2 separate regions of the Homo sapiens genome follow, and region 2 is linked to region 1. The links come from fine-mapping of genetic effects on gene expression. A gene starts in region 1. The other region holds a variant in brackets. All regions are shown on one strand. Distances are from middle to middle.

Region 1 (8,344 bases):
CTTGTGAAGCCCAAGATGGACTTGTTCCCAGATCCTCTCTCCCAGCTTTGTTTGCAAGGAGTCTTCACCTTCTAGAATGCTCCCTACTTCAGTGCTGCAATTAGCAACCCAAGTGTGGCCCTGGATGATCATCTTGATTCAGAAAATCTTGTTTTTCAAGTTTTCACACCACATTGGAGCAAGAGTCCGTATGTTTGGATGACAGCAAGCATCCTGTGCTCTGCAATTTTAGGGTTTACCACCATCCCAGGCCTGCCACATGTGGTCAGGGTAATTAATGTATGACCTAACTAGGGTGTAGATGCAGCTGGAACCCACCAGACCCCCAGAGATCATAGGGTTGCTGGGGACCTTTAGAACTCCAGTGGCTTTCAGCAACTTTAGATCCTGTCCAACCCAGATGTTCAGTGTTGGGCTCCCTTCCTTGTCTGATAATCCTAAGGCAGGAAAGACCTAGTTCTGCTCTCTACAAGTCTTGGAGGCAAGCATCTCCCCGGATGCCCAGTTTTTTGTTTTTTGTTTTTTGTTTTTTTTCCTGTGTGGGCCTGGAATTTGGGCTGGTTGCTGACTTTTTCAGAAATCCTATTCTTCCACCTTGGTAAGCATAAAATGTGGACAATCTTTCGTGGCACCTTCCTGAAGGAGGATTGTTCTGCCCCAGCCCTGGGATGCAAGAATTAGCTCCAGAAGGAGACTCCAGTCACCTGATTGGTAATCTGGGAAGGTCACTTAATCTGTGCCTGCTTGGGGTGATTACTGAGAATCATGCTTCCCCTCACTTGGTCATTGCCAGTTGTGAGGCAGGGTCAGAAAGCCAGCTCCGACTCTTCACCCACAGAAGCAACTCCACTGACTCGCTGCCTGGAGTTCTTGTGCCATTTTTACACTAAAAAATAGGGAAAAGCCGTTTTTAACTCTCTGCTACCCAGTTTCTGGAGGGGACACAAAAAGAACAAAGCCGGGTTCAGAGAGTGTTCAGTTCATGTTTAATTCTTGTTCTATCTTGGTTCTGATTTCTGGTTAGAACAGAGGTTTGCTTCTGGAGGTACTCCTTCTGCTTGGCTTCTGATGCTGGCTCTGTCCATAAAGGGGACTGTGGCATTCATCATTCAACACATACTTCTGTTGTAGGCACTAAGGATACAAGCAGGAACAAAACATAAAATCCCTGGCCACGTGGAGGTTACAGTTTAGAGGGATATGCAGAAAAAAAAATATATATGCACATATATAATATGTACAAAAGTGACCATTGCTAAGGGGAAAAAGATAATGCAGGAAATGCTGCAGACATCAAATATTAGAGAGGTGACTAGCATTCAGGAGCTTTCTGCGTGCCTCTGTACGCTGCTTTTTGTGTTGTCAGAGGGGCTGACGTCTGTCTGGAAGCCCCAGAGCCCAGCACTAAGCATATGGAAGGGGCCCAAGAGCTATTTTTGAATGAAACATCAACGTACTTCACACGTGCAAAGCATGATGATAATGATGACAGTGATACTTTAAAGGTAAACTGCAGGCTGGGGCAGTGGCTCACACCTGTAATCCCAGAACTTTGGGAGGCTGAGGAGGGGGGTAGATCACTTGAGGTCAGGAGTTCGAGATCAGCCTGACCAACATGGAGAAACCCTGACTCTACTAAAAATACAAAAATTAGCCTGTCATGGTGGCAGGCACCTGTAATCCCAGCTACTTGGGAGGCTGAGGCAGGAGAATCACTTGAATTCAGAGGCAGCGGTTGCAGTGAGCTGGGATTGTGCCACCACACTCCAGCCTGGGCGACAGAGCGAGACTCTGTCCCTTCCGGCAGAAAAAAAAAAAAAAGTAAACAGCTAAACTATAGATCCTTGAATTCAGACTCCTCCTTTTTCTTCAGATGAAAAGTAGCCATGGAATATTCCAGCATTCCTCAGTGCCTTCAGTGAGTCCTGAGTGTTCTTGGTTTGCTCCCAGACTGTAATTTCCCTGTACTATTTTTTTTTTAAATAGCACTGAAAGCACTGTTATGTAATAAACCTCTGCATCCAAAAAAAAAGAGGCTGGAAGAAAAGCAGAGAGCTTTTTTTTTTTGTCTCTGTATTTATTGGCTGATCGGGAGCTATGAAGTTCTGGTTATACTGCAACCTCAAAGCAGTCCTGGGATTATCTTGTTGTGTGTCCTTGGGCAAACTGAGTTACTTTTCTGGCTTTCTTTACTGTATGTAAATATGGCTCTCAATGATAAACAGTTTTGGGGACTTGTTATGCAAAAAGAACAAAGGAGCAATTTTTTTTTCTTGAGTCCCGTTCTGTCCCCCAGGCTGGAGTAGAGTGGCACGATCTCAGCTCACTGCAACCTCCATCACGTGGGTTCAGTTGATTCTCCTGCCTCAGCCTCCCGAGTAGCTGGGACTACAGGTGCCCACCACCATGCCTGGCTAAGTAGAGGGGGTTTCACCATGTTGGCCAGGCTGGTCTCAAACTCCTGACCTCAAGTGATCCGCCCACCTTGGCCTCCCAAAGTGCTGGGATTACAAGCAGGAGCCATCACATTGGCCAAAGGAACAATTTCAAACCACTCATCAATGATGTCAAACAACATTTAGGAGAGAGATCCGGCGGGTCCAGCCTGGAGAGGGTGAGAGGCTCTTGGCCTAAGTGTTCTATTCTCAGGACCAGTATTTTCAGATCAAATAAAAGATGTGAATTTGACTTTGAATTTCAAATAAACAAATTTCCCATCTGGAATCTTCTAGGATTCTAGCACTGACAAGCTAGAGACTCCTTCCAGACCTTCTAGCCAGGGAAGGCAAACTCAAATGCCTACAGGGATAAGACAGGTGACACCTAGATTTTTATTTTTAAATGTTAACCACACATTCAGTTAAATCAACAAAAACCCACTGTGTGGACCAAAGGAAACAATCTGCTCTGGCTACTTTATAAACTATAGTGAGGCCAAACCCTTTCAACCATTATACAGATGAGGACCCCAAAAGGGACAGATGTCAGCAAGGCTGCATAGCTAAGGTTTCTCAAAAGATAACCAAAATATCACGTTGGATGAAAGGCAATTGAAAATGCTAAGTCTCAAAGAGGCAGTCAGAGAGCCGTTCTATGCAGTTTGCAAGATGTTTTCACCTCCATCAATTTATCAGACTCTGAGAACATTCTGCAAGGCAGGCAGGGTGGATGACACTCATTTACAGTCGAGGTCACTGAGGGTCAGAAGGGCAAAGTGTCACTCTCTGCATAAAGTCACATAGGTAAGTCTACACAGGAAAATCTAGGGCTGTTCTTCACTACACCTCTGATTCAGATAACAGGTAGGCTTCCTCTAAGATTTTAATAAAGACAAACTCAAAATCCTGTATGATGCCCCATGAAGAGAAACAAGTCAGGAGGCCAGGCTGAGCCCCCAGACTTCTAACCCAGTTCGCAAATAAAGAAAGTGGCAAAGTAGATAGATTCCAGCCTGTCACCAGGGTTGTGTCTTCTGTCCTAGCAGCTGTACAGCTTGTCTTACCACTGGACATTTGTTTCATGTACATTTTCACATAGGAAGGATATTCTAAAAGATGTTGATAAAGATTTTTTAAAGGGTTTGAAGGGGATAGGATGTGATCTAAGGTTGTGCAAGGAGAGGAAAGGAAGAAGCACACAAAAAGAACAAATATTTATTAAGAGCCTAGAGTGGCATGCGCTGTGAAAGGCGTGGCATGTAATTCTTTCCCAGTTCTTTGCCTGTCTGAATATTTCTCATTCTTCAGGTTTCAGCTCAGATATCACATCCTCAGAGAACTTGCCTTGCCACTCTCTCTGAAGAGCCTCCCCCCGTCCCCGCCACCGCTACTGTCTCTTGAACTTTCTCAGTCTGGCCATTCTATTAAAATCTGGAACGATTTTGCTAGTTTGCGGACGAGTTTCCCCCAAGCTGCAGGCTCCATAAGGGCAGTGACAGTGTCTCTTTCTCAGATGAATGCCGGGTTGCCTATCGCGTACTTGGCACACAGTTAAGTGCTCGAGAAATTGCTAAACACTCAACGAATATTTACCAGAATACATATTTATGCTCCACCGTTGCTGAAAGAATTTCGACTAACCCTTCTTTAAGTCTCTCTTACCCTCCTGTACTATTAACACCATTGTAAGTAGGCAGTGGAGCTACATTTGCAGGGAGAGAGAAGAGCGAAAAATTGGCGCGCAGAGCTGTAAAGCGTTTTTCTCCAGGTCACACCGCAGCCTGTAAATTTGTGACACTTGGACCGATTATGGGACAGCTTGCAAACAAATTATCTGCAAACTAACGAAGCCTATTTTTAAAGATCCCTGTTCCTCGCAGCTCTAGGCGATGACATCAGAGAACCCGGAGTTCTACCTCCGAGCCAAGCCCAGTGGTGGTCAAAAACTACGAATACCAGGAAGCACCGCGGCGCGGCGGCCCAGAGCTCCGCGCGCAGGCCTCCCCGGCGCGCCGAGGCCGCCGCCGCTGGAACCAGGAAGACGCCAGAAACTCGGCCCGCCACGCCGCAGGGACCCGCGCGGGGCCTGCCGGGACTCGTAGTCTCTGCGGGCTGGGAGCGCCCGCTCCGGAATCTCAGCCGCCGTCTGAGGGCTGAGGCAGCGTGGGGACGCGTGCGCAGTGCGCGGGCTGGCCGTCGCGGACGCCGCTCCGGGCAGCCGAGCCTCTGTGGGAGCCGGGGCCGCGGCGGCGCGGGTGCTCCGGGCCGAGGCCGCGGTAAAGTTTAGCTTGAAGAACGCGGCCGCGCTGGAGCAGGGGTGGTGGACGGGGCCAGGCGCGAGGTGGCGGCGGCTGCGGGGCTGCCGGGCTGCTGGAGCGCGGTTCCCGCTGTGGCGAGCGGGGAGGCGTCCGCAGAGGGGCGGTGGGTGCTGGTGAGTGCGGAGCCGGCGCCCCCTCTGCGCACGTCCGCGCCACGCGCCACAGCACCTGGAGGCCGCCGGGCCGGCTCACCTGCCCTGGCTTGGGGCAGCGGGAGGGGGCGGCGTCTTCTTCCCGTGGGTCCCCGATTGTTTTCCCGACGTCAGCCCTCAGCGGCGCCCGGCGGGGGAGGGCGGGAGGCCCGCGGCGGTCGCGGGGCCGACGAGCTCCTCGGCGTCTCCGCCCCCCGAGAAATCCCGCTCGGGGCGCGGTGCGCGCAGCTGCCCGGGGATTCCCGGTGGCGCCGGTCGGAGCGCCTCCCTCCAGGGCTGTGCCCGCGGGGCGCGCGTCCCCGGGCATCCTTTCCTGGTGTTTAATGCATTTTGGCTTCAGGACTTGCCGAGGCCGAAGCCGGCTCCGCCCTGGGCCCTGAAGTCGGGCGGTGTCCGCGATTTACCTCCGCACCTTCGGGGCAGGTGGCCAGAGGCAGCGTTGAAAGCGACTTGCCCAAGGTCACGCAGGTGGCACCGGGGAGGCGACCAGACCCAGGTCTTTCGACGCCGAGGCCAGCTGCCAACCGCAGAGCTTTGGGGCCGTCTTGAGTGGTTTGTGGTTTGTTTCAGATGCTTTCTATTGACCTCCTGGAAAGAGGGGAAAGTGTGTCATAATGAAAGCGGTCCTGTTGCTTATAGTGTTTACCGCCTTTGGTAGAATTCTGGTGAGGCTGTGCCCCCGCGCAGAGCATCTACCGTGGTCTGGGCGTATAAATAATGAAACTCCTTTGCTCTCTGGGGGCAGTACAAGAAGAGGTTCAAGGAACAAATAAATATCCAGGCAGTTTCTGCGTTTTCCTCGTCTGTTTGTTTCACCTTCCAATTCTGCAGTACTGGTTTTCTTATTTTACAATTGATCGTTGTTTTAATAAGATTTTCTTTGTTTTAATGAAGTCATTGCCCCTTGTGAGTTAGTTTTCTAAATAGAAAATCTTATTTCCTGTGTGTTTAATGACTGGAACAAATAGTGCACTATGAGGTTTACACCATTGTCTTTCATCTTAGAACTCCTGATCAATCTGCTTTATTTTCCCAAGTACTCAGCTTGCATACTTTCTATGTTAATTTGATGCCACTGAAACCATTTACAGCAAAGTTTGGGTAAGAGTTATGTGATTGTTTTGTGAAACTGTGTTTTTCTTCACAATCTGAAGAACTTGAAGACCCGTTATATTAAAATAATAAGATTTATTCTGATCAAAATACCTGTTTACTTTTCATGCTCTTAATTTTTCCTGTTGACACACTTGTGGCAAAAGAAATATTTCCCCTAGTGGAGTTAAAGTATTTTTTATCTTGGCCAATTTTCCCAAGGAAAATTGCATTTTAGAGTACTGATACATTTAAAAAAGAGTATTTAAGTTTGACAGAATTTGAATTAATAAAGTAGTTAATTTATTTTATACTGCCGTAAACCTTACACTGTATCTACTGACAGTTTTCTCTTGTAGCGTATACCTGTATCAAGATATATGGCTGTGAATTTAGTGACATTAAGAAGATATATATATATATATATATATATATATATATAATATAAATATATGTGTATACACACCGCGCGGGCGCGCGCAGAGCTTCCAATCTTTATCTTGTTAATTAGTATTTTCATTGTCGCTTTGGGAGGGGGGAAAGTAGCAGGTTTGTATCTTTTTTTCTCCCCAGTTTTAGCAGTGTAACAAAATAGGAAAGATGGTGTGTAAAATTGAGTTTGTCATAGACTAGGAGAGACAGTGAAACAGGATAAGTATACAATTGTGAGGAAACTGCCATGAGTTCATAAGCCGGAAGGACCTTTTTAGAAGTGTTTAAGGATGTTAAGAATAGCATTGGATTCTTTTCTTTAAAAGTCATTCAAGTATCGTTTGCTAACATATAGGATATGACAATATTGACCACTCCTAGGAAGATACTTGGGAAAGGTGGAAACATTTTACATTTTTATGGGGACTTCCCCCCACAAAAAACATTTAATGGAGATTTAAACAAAGTGGCTTTTTGACTTAAGCCTGGAAGTTCTTTATTATTATTAGTCATGCTGCAAATCCCGAAGTTATTTTAATTGTGTGATAATTTGTAACCCAGAATGAAATCTAATAAATAGTTTATTAATATAATTTAAGTCATACTTTGACATTGACATATTGCTTGATGTCAAGTCATTATTGTTTAAATAACTTATTTGAGAATGGGGAAGATAGTTTTCTGAATATAGTGTAGTAATTATTTGTGACAATAGTAACATTGCTTTTATTAGAAAATTTTGGGTTGATATAACTAACTGCCTTAAAGTATTTCCTATTTGATTCCAACTGTGAGCTGAGGTAATATGCAAATAATTACTTTTCTCATGCTGGAGCAGTTTACTTTTGTTAATATTAAAATTTAAATTTCAAGATTAAAAAATCTTGTTTTAGATCTGCAATGATACAATAAAATGACTTCAATAGGAGTTAAATATTAAGATTTGGTTTTAGGTTTTTTGACCATTTGTGAGTACACATCCAGCATTTAAGAATTTATTGACATGGTGTCTGAAAGGAATGCTTTCAGAAAGGGCAGAAAACTTGGTAGCTTTAGATGATTGTTTATAATGCTTAATTATTTTTAGAAACATAAAAATATGGGATGTTTTTATGTAAACATAAAGCATCCTGTTATTTGTTATAGCACTAGAACTCTCTTACACTTACTGAGCAATATTAAACCATTTGACCCTAAGTAACTTTTTTTCTTGTGGGTACTGTCTAATAAGGGATATGTGAGTTTGTGATTCCTAGAAGATGCTTAAGCAAACATATGTTTGCTATTTATTTTAGTAAGCCTTTTAATTAGTTGAATTGATAATATTCAGGAAGATAGGGTTTTTGGGATTTTATAAGCTTTCTTTGAACTGGAATTTCTGTTGGATATAAAAGAAAATTAGTCATTTAAGATTTTTTTAAGTTAAATAAGTTTTAGAGCAAAATATTGTTTCCTACATGGAACTCTTACCAGGCTTGTCAGTCTGATAGCTTTATTCTCCAGAAAGTTGTGGTTTTTAGCCCTTTAGGCAGCCTAGCCTTTTATGGTTTAACCATTGAACTCTAGATTCTGGATTGAATTTAACCTCTTGAAGGAAAAGACGATCACAGGCACTAGAATTGGAAGTGATGTCAGAGGGCTTCTAATGTAGCATCTTACCCGGTACAGTAAATCCCTCCTGAGAATTTCCATGTCAGGTGTTCCCTCCCATTATTAAGGATGAGAATGCTATTGCATATGTCATCAGGTTATTCAGCAGTCCAAGCTTACTGAGAACAAACACAAGAGTTTTAATGAGTTTTAATTTTCACTATTCACTGCCTTTAACTGTATTTTGTAGGCTCTTTCCCACCCCCCTGTCCCCCACCCCCCATAACATCATGGGTAAATGATAGCTTTTCTGTCATTTACA
Region 2 (8,344 bases), 34 kb after region 1:
CAGATATTCTGGGCAGATGCCCAAAATAACATTGAGGGGAAGAAGCCATTATGAATGAGGAGAGCTCTGCTTCAGCCTAAGCTGAAAAAAGATTATAAAAGGAAGCCTTACCGATGGCTAGAAATTAAAAACAAGTTATTTATTGATAGATATAGCATCCTAGTGAATTATGGATTTATCTTAATACATATTTATGGCAGTTATAACTTTTCCAGTCTCTAGAAAGATGTACAAGAACAGATTTCCAGTGTGTTAAATTTCTTTTAAGGTTATAGACTGGTTGTTTTGTAGCACTTTACAAGATAGGCTTTGACTTCCTTTCTGAGACCTTCATCTCAATTCAAGGAAGCTGTAGTTTAGAGTGTTTTGGTCTCAGTCCCAATTTCAAAATCTTGTGTGTTTTCCTTGAGAGTTTGCATTTCCCCTTCTCAGTCACATTGAACTGTGTGCTAGTATATCTTTTAAAATTTTGGTGGAGACGTTTGGAAGTTATTTTTATATTTGAACAATTGCAACAGTATAACTATTCAGATACTTAGCTCCTAGAATAATATTTATGCTTTTAAAAATAAATGCAGATGGTGTATAATAAATAGCTTTAATTCAAGAGTGGACTATGATAGTTTATAGACAACTGTATGTGCACATGTGCTTTGCTTGATAAAAGTACCTAGTCCCTAAAGGGGAATATAGAAACTAAATTGCATAAAAGTTCCAAATGTATTAAGATTCAAAATATAAAGGAAATTCATAAGGTCTAGAAAAATAGATCTTAAGTTAGGGAGATTTTCTAGATGATATGAAATCTGGATGCATTTATAGAAAAGATTCATAGTATATTTCTGTCTGATCAAAAATACTGTTAAAGTAAAACAGACTGGGTAAAGTATTGGTAATAAAGCAGAAAAGATTAATAAAGAAGTTGCTATAAATTAATAATGAATTCAGGAGAAACGTGGGTAAAGAAAGTAAACAAAACTTACAAAATAAATGCAGATGGCCAATAAACTTACAAAACTAATTTATCTCAATAACCAAAGAAATTAAAATTTGAACAAGGTACAATTATTTACCAATTAGGTTGTTAAAGAGTATTAGCCAGGAAAACAGCACACTAGATATTTCAAACCTAAGGGATTTGTTATGGGGAATTGGTTACCCAAATATTGGAAGGCTGAAAGAACATGAAGGGAATGCTGAAGTAACCCAGGAATTAGACGCATGAAGCAACTACTACTCAAGGGCTAGAGAGACAAAAGAGAAGGGGTAGTAGTATTACTATAACCTAGGGCAGTGGAGTAGAAGCCACCATGGAGCTATTAGTATCCAAGGGGACTCTGCAAGGCTGGCATAGGGGGCAGGAAAAGGCTCCTAACAGTAGCTAGTTGTGTGCTGCTGTTGGAGAGAGGTCAACAACAGCAGGAGTCAAGGAGAGTCTCCTCTTTCCTTCTCCCCTCTCCCACCTTACAGTCTCTCATCAGTACCTCCCAGTGGCAGAGAATGGCCTCAGATGGGGTCTAGGAAATATTGTTTGCAGACTACCAGCCCCAGTGCCACAGAGCCTTTGAAAACTAGAAACTAGAGGTATCCACAGGTGCTAACAACCAGTTCTGGTGAGGGGTATTCGATGAAATAAAATGTGTATGTGGTTGGTAGGAATGTGAATGGATTCAACTTTGTGGGAAGATGATTTGGAAATACCTATAAAAAGTTTAAATGTCAATTGTCTTTGACCCAACAAATCTATGTCAAGAAATTTATCACCCAGAAATGCTAGCCAAGTGTGGAGAAATATATGTATATGATGTTTCATTGTGATATTTTATATAATTTCAAAAACCGGAAATAGCCTAAGTGTCTATCATTAGGGGATTGACTAAATGTATTGTGGTGTATCCATTTAATAAACAAAATGGCCATAACAAAATAAGAGTTTTACCTGTGTTATTGTGTGATAAAAGCTGTATTACATGTGGTCTGATATATTTTGTCAAATCCACGAGAGTCACGGTGTTGAACTTAGCAAGGTTTTTCAGCTACTGCAAACATAAATTTAGAGGTAATAAGTACAATATTTGGTGTGTTATTTTTTTCTGTCAACAGTTATGAATGCAGGAATGAGGAAGTACTTCCTACAAGCCAATGATCAGCAGGACCTAGTGGAATGGGTAAATGTGTTAAACAAAGCTATAAAAATTACAGTAAGTATATGTATTTTTTTGAAAAACGTTCGATGTCTGGAATTAATCTTTTCATTTTGAAAATACACCTACCAAATGTTCCCAGCTTACCAACAGGTTTCATACTCAAGCTTTGTTTAAAAGACAGGTGTTCAGAATGTGAATATGTTTTCTTGTACTTGGTGACTGTTGGCACTTTAATCAGCCCATGATTGTCTTTTTAACTTATGCACCTAATAAGGAGATATATTACTGCAGATCTTAATCACTTCTTGCAACGTTTCTAGGAGAAAATGCGCTTAGCACGTAGAGTTCTACCGGGAGGATATATATTTTTCTTCCAATATAGTGTAAGAGATTTCCTGTCACCTACCTGGGGAATAGGCACTTCTCTCTTCTAAGCCATGACTGGGATTGGGGTCAGATAGGGAAAGAGTTGAAAACAGGAGCAGGACAAGGGGAGATGAAGGCTGAAAAATGAGGGTTAGGGATAGGAATAGTGTCTGAAGGGTTGCGGCAGCCAGAGGGTCCTGTCCATGTGACCCTTGAGAAGTTTGTCTCAGGCTCTAAACTTCTTCCCATGTCTGATTTTTTTCCTTGCATTCCAGGGCTTGGTACCCTTGCCCTCCTTTCCCATGCTACAATTTCTTGCTTCTAATGTGTGCTTCTTTTCTTTTTTGGTTTCCTGATGAATATTTATTGATTATTAACACTGTGCCAGATCTTAGACCGAAGGTTTTACTTAAATGAACTGGAAAAGTGAGGCTTAGAAAGATTAATCTACCAGTGTTATAGCTGGTAGATTATGGAGCTGGAAGCCCAGTCCAGTTTTTTGGCCTCTGGAGCCCGAACTCTGAAGTGCAGTGCCTTACTGCTTCCTGAACAAGAACAGCCCTCTCCTTACTCTTTTGTTCCTAAAGCCAACAACAACCTTTACTGAGAGAGTTTGCTAGTGATGATGAGCAGCACGTAGATAGGCTCTATTTTGATTATACCTTGCCTCACCTTTCCCTTTACACTTTTGTAGAGAAATACATAGCAGGCCTGCCTGGAAAATGTTGGGAAGGAGTTCTTGTGTTGTGAGATTTGTGTCAATTGCGTTTTTGTTTTTGTTTTTTTTAAAGAAAGTGCAGTTATATACTGACCCTAAGTGACTTATTCTCAAAGAACATGTGCCCTGAAAGTCAGCATATGTTAGTCACTCATTAGTTTCCATCTAAAATGAATAATTTCCTATTTATATCACAACACAATAAAGAGTCAATATAGTTAAAGCTGTTCTCAGAGTTTAGTCGAATCTTTTTGTTTTGCTCTAGAACAGCTTGTTACCACATGACAGAAAA[C/T]GCCTACGCACCGCATCTGATCTGTACATGAAGCAGAAGTTATTTTAGGTTTGTGCAGTGTCAGGAAAGCAATTTTTTAACCTGATTCAGACATACATATTCTTAAAAGCTTTTAGCTAATCATTTTAACTCTTCTAATAAATATTCCCTGCTTGAAAAATTTCTTTAGAAAGATAATATCTCGTAACTGTACTAAATTCATGTTTTACCATTTGCAATAACAAGCAGCACTGGTTTCTTAGTGCTTTAAGAGAAAAAGTAGTGAATGGTCTCAGGCTTTTTACCATTTTGGGGGGTCTTGAATTGCTATGTCTGATTTATCAATGGTATGAAACAGTCTTATACAAATGACACTGGTAAGCTTTTCAGCATGAAGGAAAAACAGGTTAGAGATTCTAAATAGAATTCTAAAAAGACTTCTAAGTAGCTTTTGTGGTCTTGCAATTTTATTTTACCTGTTGAAATTTTTATAGTTTTTAAGATAAATTTGTTGGTAAATGATTTTAATGTTTTTATAATTCACATTTGGAAAATATAAATACATAGAAGTTATAGAAATCCTTATTACTTAATAAAGTGGTTATAACTGCATTAAAGTGAGTATAGATTTGATAGTACTTATTAAAAATAAACTTTTGATAGACACACATTTAACTCATAGGATAGCAATGAAATAATTTCCTATGCTTTAATAAGATGCTTTATGTTAATTTTATTCCTTAAAAATATCTTACCAGTTTCATGTGCATTTTATACATTTAAGTGTATTAAAGTGTGGAATCTCCAATTTGTTATATTTTCCTGTGAACATTGCTGATGATTTACATGTAGATTATTTGAAAACTTAAAATGTACATTTTGATGTATGTACTTAATACATAAATCTTTCTATGGGATCACTCTCATTTTGGTCAACTCTAATTTAGTGGTCTGCTAAGTACTGTGTGATATATAAATTTTAAAATTTTGGAAATCCAAAATTAGAGTTTGGAAGTGTGTGGTTTCAAAATAGAGGTGGTTAGAGGGCAATGGGTAAGGGAATGATGATTTTTAAACTATTTCCTAGTTATAATATCTTGCCATTTTAATCCATTATCCTCTAACGCTATAGTCTGTGACTTTCCTTACTTGAGTCTAGGTGGGTGCCACTTGAAATTCTTTTCCCTTTACAGTTGCTTTTCAACTTATGATGGGGTTACATCCTTATAAACCTATTGTAAGTCAAAAACACAAGTTGAAAATCCATTTAATACCCCAACAAACCCACTTGTAAAGTTGAAAAATTGAACCATTGTAAGTCCTGGACCATCTGTATTAAACATACGCACAAAAAGGAAAAGAGCAACAGTGGGAGAATCAGCCCCGAAGGGGGAGTATCAATGACTGGAGTGAGGAAAATCAAATTTTAAAGTATGCTTTCCACTGTTCATTTATAGTGGAAATATATATAGTGGAAATATAGTGGAAACAACATAAATATGGTGGTTTCTGTTCCCTTATTGATTATTAAGGAATGTCTAAGATATATATGGTTTATTCCTGAACAGAGATCCATTATTTTTAAACATGTCTTTTTTAAAATTTAAAAATAAATGTTCGATTTGAATCTAAAAATTAGTACTTTGAATTTGTGGCAGAAACTCCACAAGTTTGATATATTTTTAATAGAAACTGGAAACAAGTAGATGTAGAATTCTCAGAAAGATTGTAAGACCCAGGAGTTTGTGTCTGCACGTTTTTATCCTCAGTGAATTGAACATTATGACAATTTCATTCTTTCTTTTTATCCTTTTTTTTTTTTTTGAGACAGAGTCTCGCTGTGTTGCCCAGGCTGGAGTACAGTGGTGCTATCCCAGCTCACTGCAGCCTCCGCCACCGGGGTTCAAGTGATTCTTGAGCCCTCAGCCTCCTAAGTAGCTGGGATTACAGGTGTGTGCCACCACAGCCAGCTAATTTTTGTACTTTTAGTAGAGACTGGGTTTCGCCATGTTGTCCAGGTTGGTTTTAAAACTCCTGGCCTCAAGTGATCCGCCCAGCTTGGCCTCCCAAAGTGCTGGGATTACAGGCGTGAGCCACCGCGCCTAGCCCAACATTATATTTTCATTCTTGGTGAATTGAATATCAACTTTCCCTTTAACTTTTGAGAAACCTGCAGCGTTTTTATGTATTTCACTCATAAATACTTAAATCTGTCTTGTTCATCTTTTTATTCTCTAGTTATTTTTACCTTTTCTTTTCCTACTATTAGAATTTCCTACTACTAGGATCACATGCAAATGCCTGCCAAGATTACATTCAGATCTCCTACAAAAAATGCTGGGACATAAAAAAGGATAGAAAGCCAAGGAAAGGGAGAGAGGCAGTAGACAAAGAAACCAAGTGGATTCAGTGTCTGACATGTGCCAACTGCCCAGTGAGATCACTTTTCTGATTTTCATTGGACAGTTGGATGGTTTGGGGCAGGGGTGTGTCCTGAAAATGTCTATCTTAATGGCTGAATTTAGACCAAGTTTTACAGAGGTACATATTGTTTTTAGAGGAGTTATCCATGTTCATGGGTATTTTGCTTGAACTTTTCTTGTTCTTAGGGAATAAGATGATTACAAGTTAGATAATTTTTATAGTAAAATGCAGTTCTAAGTTAACTACTAGCATTTGATTTTATTATAAAGACAAATTAGAAGCAGTGAGCTTAACAGCATAAGCAAGGACTTTTAATATACTGTAATTTAAGAAAAATGGAAAAACCAATATAAATTTCGGTATTTTTTAGAATGATTTTAAAGGTTTTTCCTAATAATTCCCAGGTCTGACTAAACTTCTTGAGAGAATAACTGCTAGTTTTCTTATGGGTCACCTCTTAGCAGCACCTCTCATTTTATCTAGTTGAATAGATTGTTTTCTCTCTGGTTTCAGGTTCTCTTAATGCTAGTTGCTGTTCTTCTCAATGAGATAACTGGGCCATATTTTCTCTGTCAGAATAATTGAAATATATGGTGCTATTCATTAGAAAATATAATGGGCTTCCCTAGCAAATCATTCCAGGGTATACTATCCTAATTTTATTTGACAAGGAAAATTCTCTTCATTATTTTATTGTCTTTAAAAAGCACTCCAAAGTGTGCAAGTTCTTAGAAGAATTCAAGAGGTATTCAGGATTCTCTTCTCTTTCCTGTTTTCTCTCTCTTTTGTTTCTGCGGATGAGGGCATTGTAGTATGAATACGAACCAGAGGCTGGAGGATTGGGCCTGGGGCCTGAGAGAAACCTCTTCAAGGGAGGCAGGTGGAGAAGGAAGGGAGAGGGAGTTTTAGAAGTCACTTAAGAGACAAGTCATTTATTATATCCATAAATTACATTTGTGTGGATTGGGACTTACTGTAGCTCAGCATCCTTTCATATACACATGGACCATGTTTGCTCAATATTTTGCAGAAAGCTGCTTTGCAAATCCTTATCTGCATTGTATACCCTCTTTTCTACAAATCTGGTGGGAGTAGCATCGTATGGAAGAAGAGCACAGGTTTTAGAGCAGTGTTTCTCAAAGTGTGGTTTATGAAACTCCTGCCTCAAAAATGTCTGGTGTTCTTGCTTAAAGTGCAGGTTTTTGGGCTGCACTATAGATATGTTGAGTCAGAATTTCTGGGTTCGAAGCAGGGGAATCTGAAGTTTTAAATAATGTTCCTGGGTGATACTTTATGCACTCTAAAGTTTGAGAAATCACACTGCTTTGGAATCACACTAATAAACGGTTTGAGCCTTTGAATACAATGTGAGTGGTGTCCTGTAGTTCTACCAGTACTCTATTAACAGGAATTAGCTATATGACAAGCAAACTATTTAAGTTAAATGTTTCTACACCACTACTTCAGTGATTGTCAGTAGTATTTGTCATAGTGTTTCTGAAAGACTGCAAGGTTCCACGTGCCCTTTAAATCATTGGAGAAGACTAAATCATGTTCAACATTATAATTGATGCTGAGCAGATTTTATTACATTTTATTCACAGCCTTAAAAATGTATAATTTAAATACAGACTATGTGCTAAACAGTCTACAGATAGAAATAATGATTAACTGAGTACCTTATTTACTGAATAGATCACATAAGAAAAGCAAAAATATATGTTAAAAATTTATGATACCTCTGATTCTTTCATCCACTTTAGTGAGGTGTTAATGTGAGATTCTGCTGTTACCACAGTCATTGTTTTCCTGTACTTGTGAACGATTTATCATTGATCCAAGTATTGGAATTCCTTCTTTAAATTTCTAATGAAAAGTTTTGTTTTGAAACTTCTGATTTGTTTTAAGAATTTTGCTATTCTTTTTTCTGCTGACTTTGGATTCATCCATTGAGTCTTTCAACATTTATTGAATACACTATGGTTTTGGTAATAGTCTCTGTCTTGAAGCCAGGAAAGACTGAATATGCCACAATCCCAGAATCATGGGTAGGAATGGAGAAAGGGAAGAAAACAGCAAAGAGCTGTAAGCCAATAGTAAGTGTGCCAATAAACAGGGTCTAGAGCACAGCAGTTGGGCTTGGAAGAGTTACACACACTTGGCTAGAATGTATTATAGTCAGGATCTGAATCTATATTCCCTAATGCCCCTGAGCCTATTTCCTTACCTCTTAGGTGGGGGTAGAGCCCCTATGCATAGGGTAGACAGGAGTAGTAAAGGAGAAAAATGTGTGAACTAGTACCTGCCCGAGTAAGCACTCATTACGTGATAGCTATATTATAAAATATTATTCTAACAGAAAAATTAGTGTGATAACTTAAGGAGTACATACATGGACTATAATTTTTATATGTATCT

Evidence for each region.
Region 2: its variant is fine-mapped to the expression of PLEKHA1 in whole blood (TOPMed, PIP 0.90).

The regions. Positions count from the first base shown.
Region 1 is chr10:122,370,093-122,378,436 of GRCh38, forward strand. It overlaps PLEKHA1 (pleckstrin homology domain containing A1), which reads left to right and starts at 4,616. Exons shown (of 12, transcript NM_001001974.4): 1 at 4,616-4,714. RefSeq lists silencers at 4,324-4,473, 4,614-4,723, 4,764-4,833, 4,854-5,013, 5,024-5,223.
Region 2 is chr10:122,404,473-122,412,816 of GRCh38, forward strand. PLEKHA1 (pleckstrin homology domain containing A1) reads left to right here. Exons shown (of 12, transcript NM_001001974.4): 5 at 2,104-2,201. Among named protein-coding and RNA genes, the nearest start is that of MIR3941, 8.3 kb to the right of the region's middle. The variant C/T (reference allele first, on the strand shown) is at 3,524.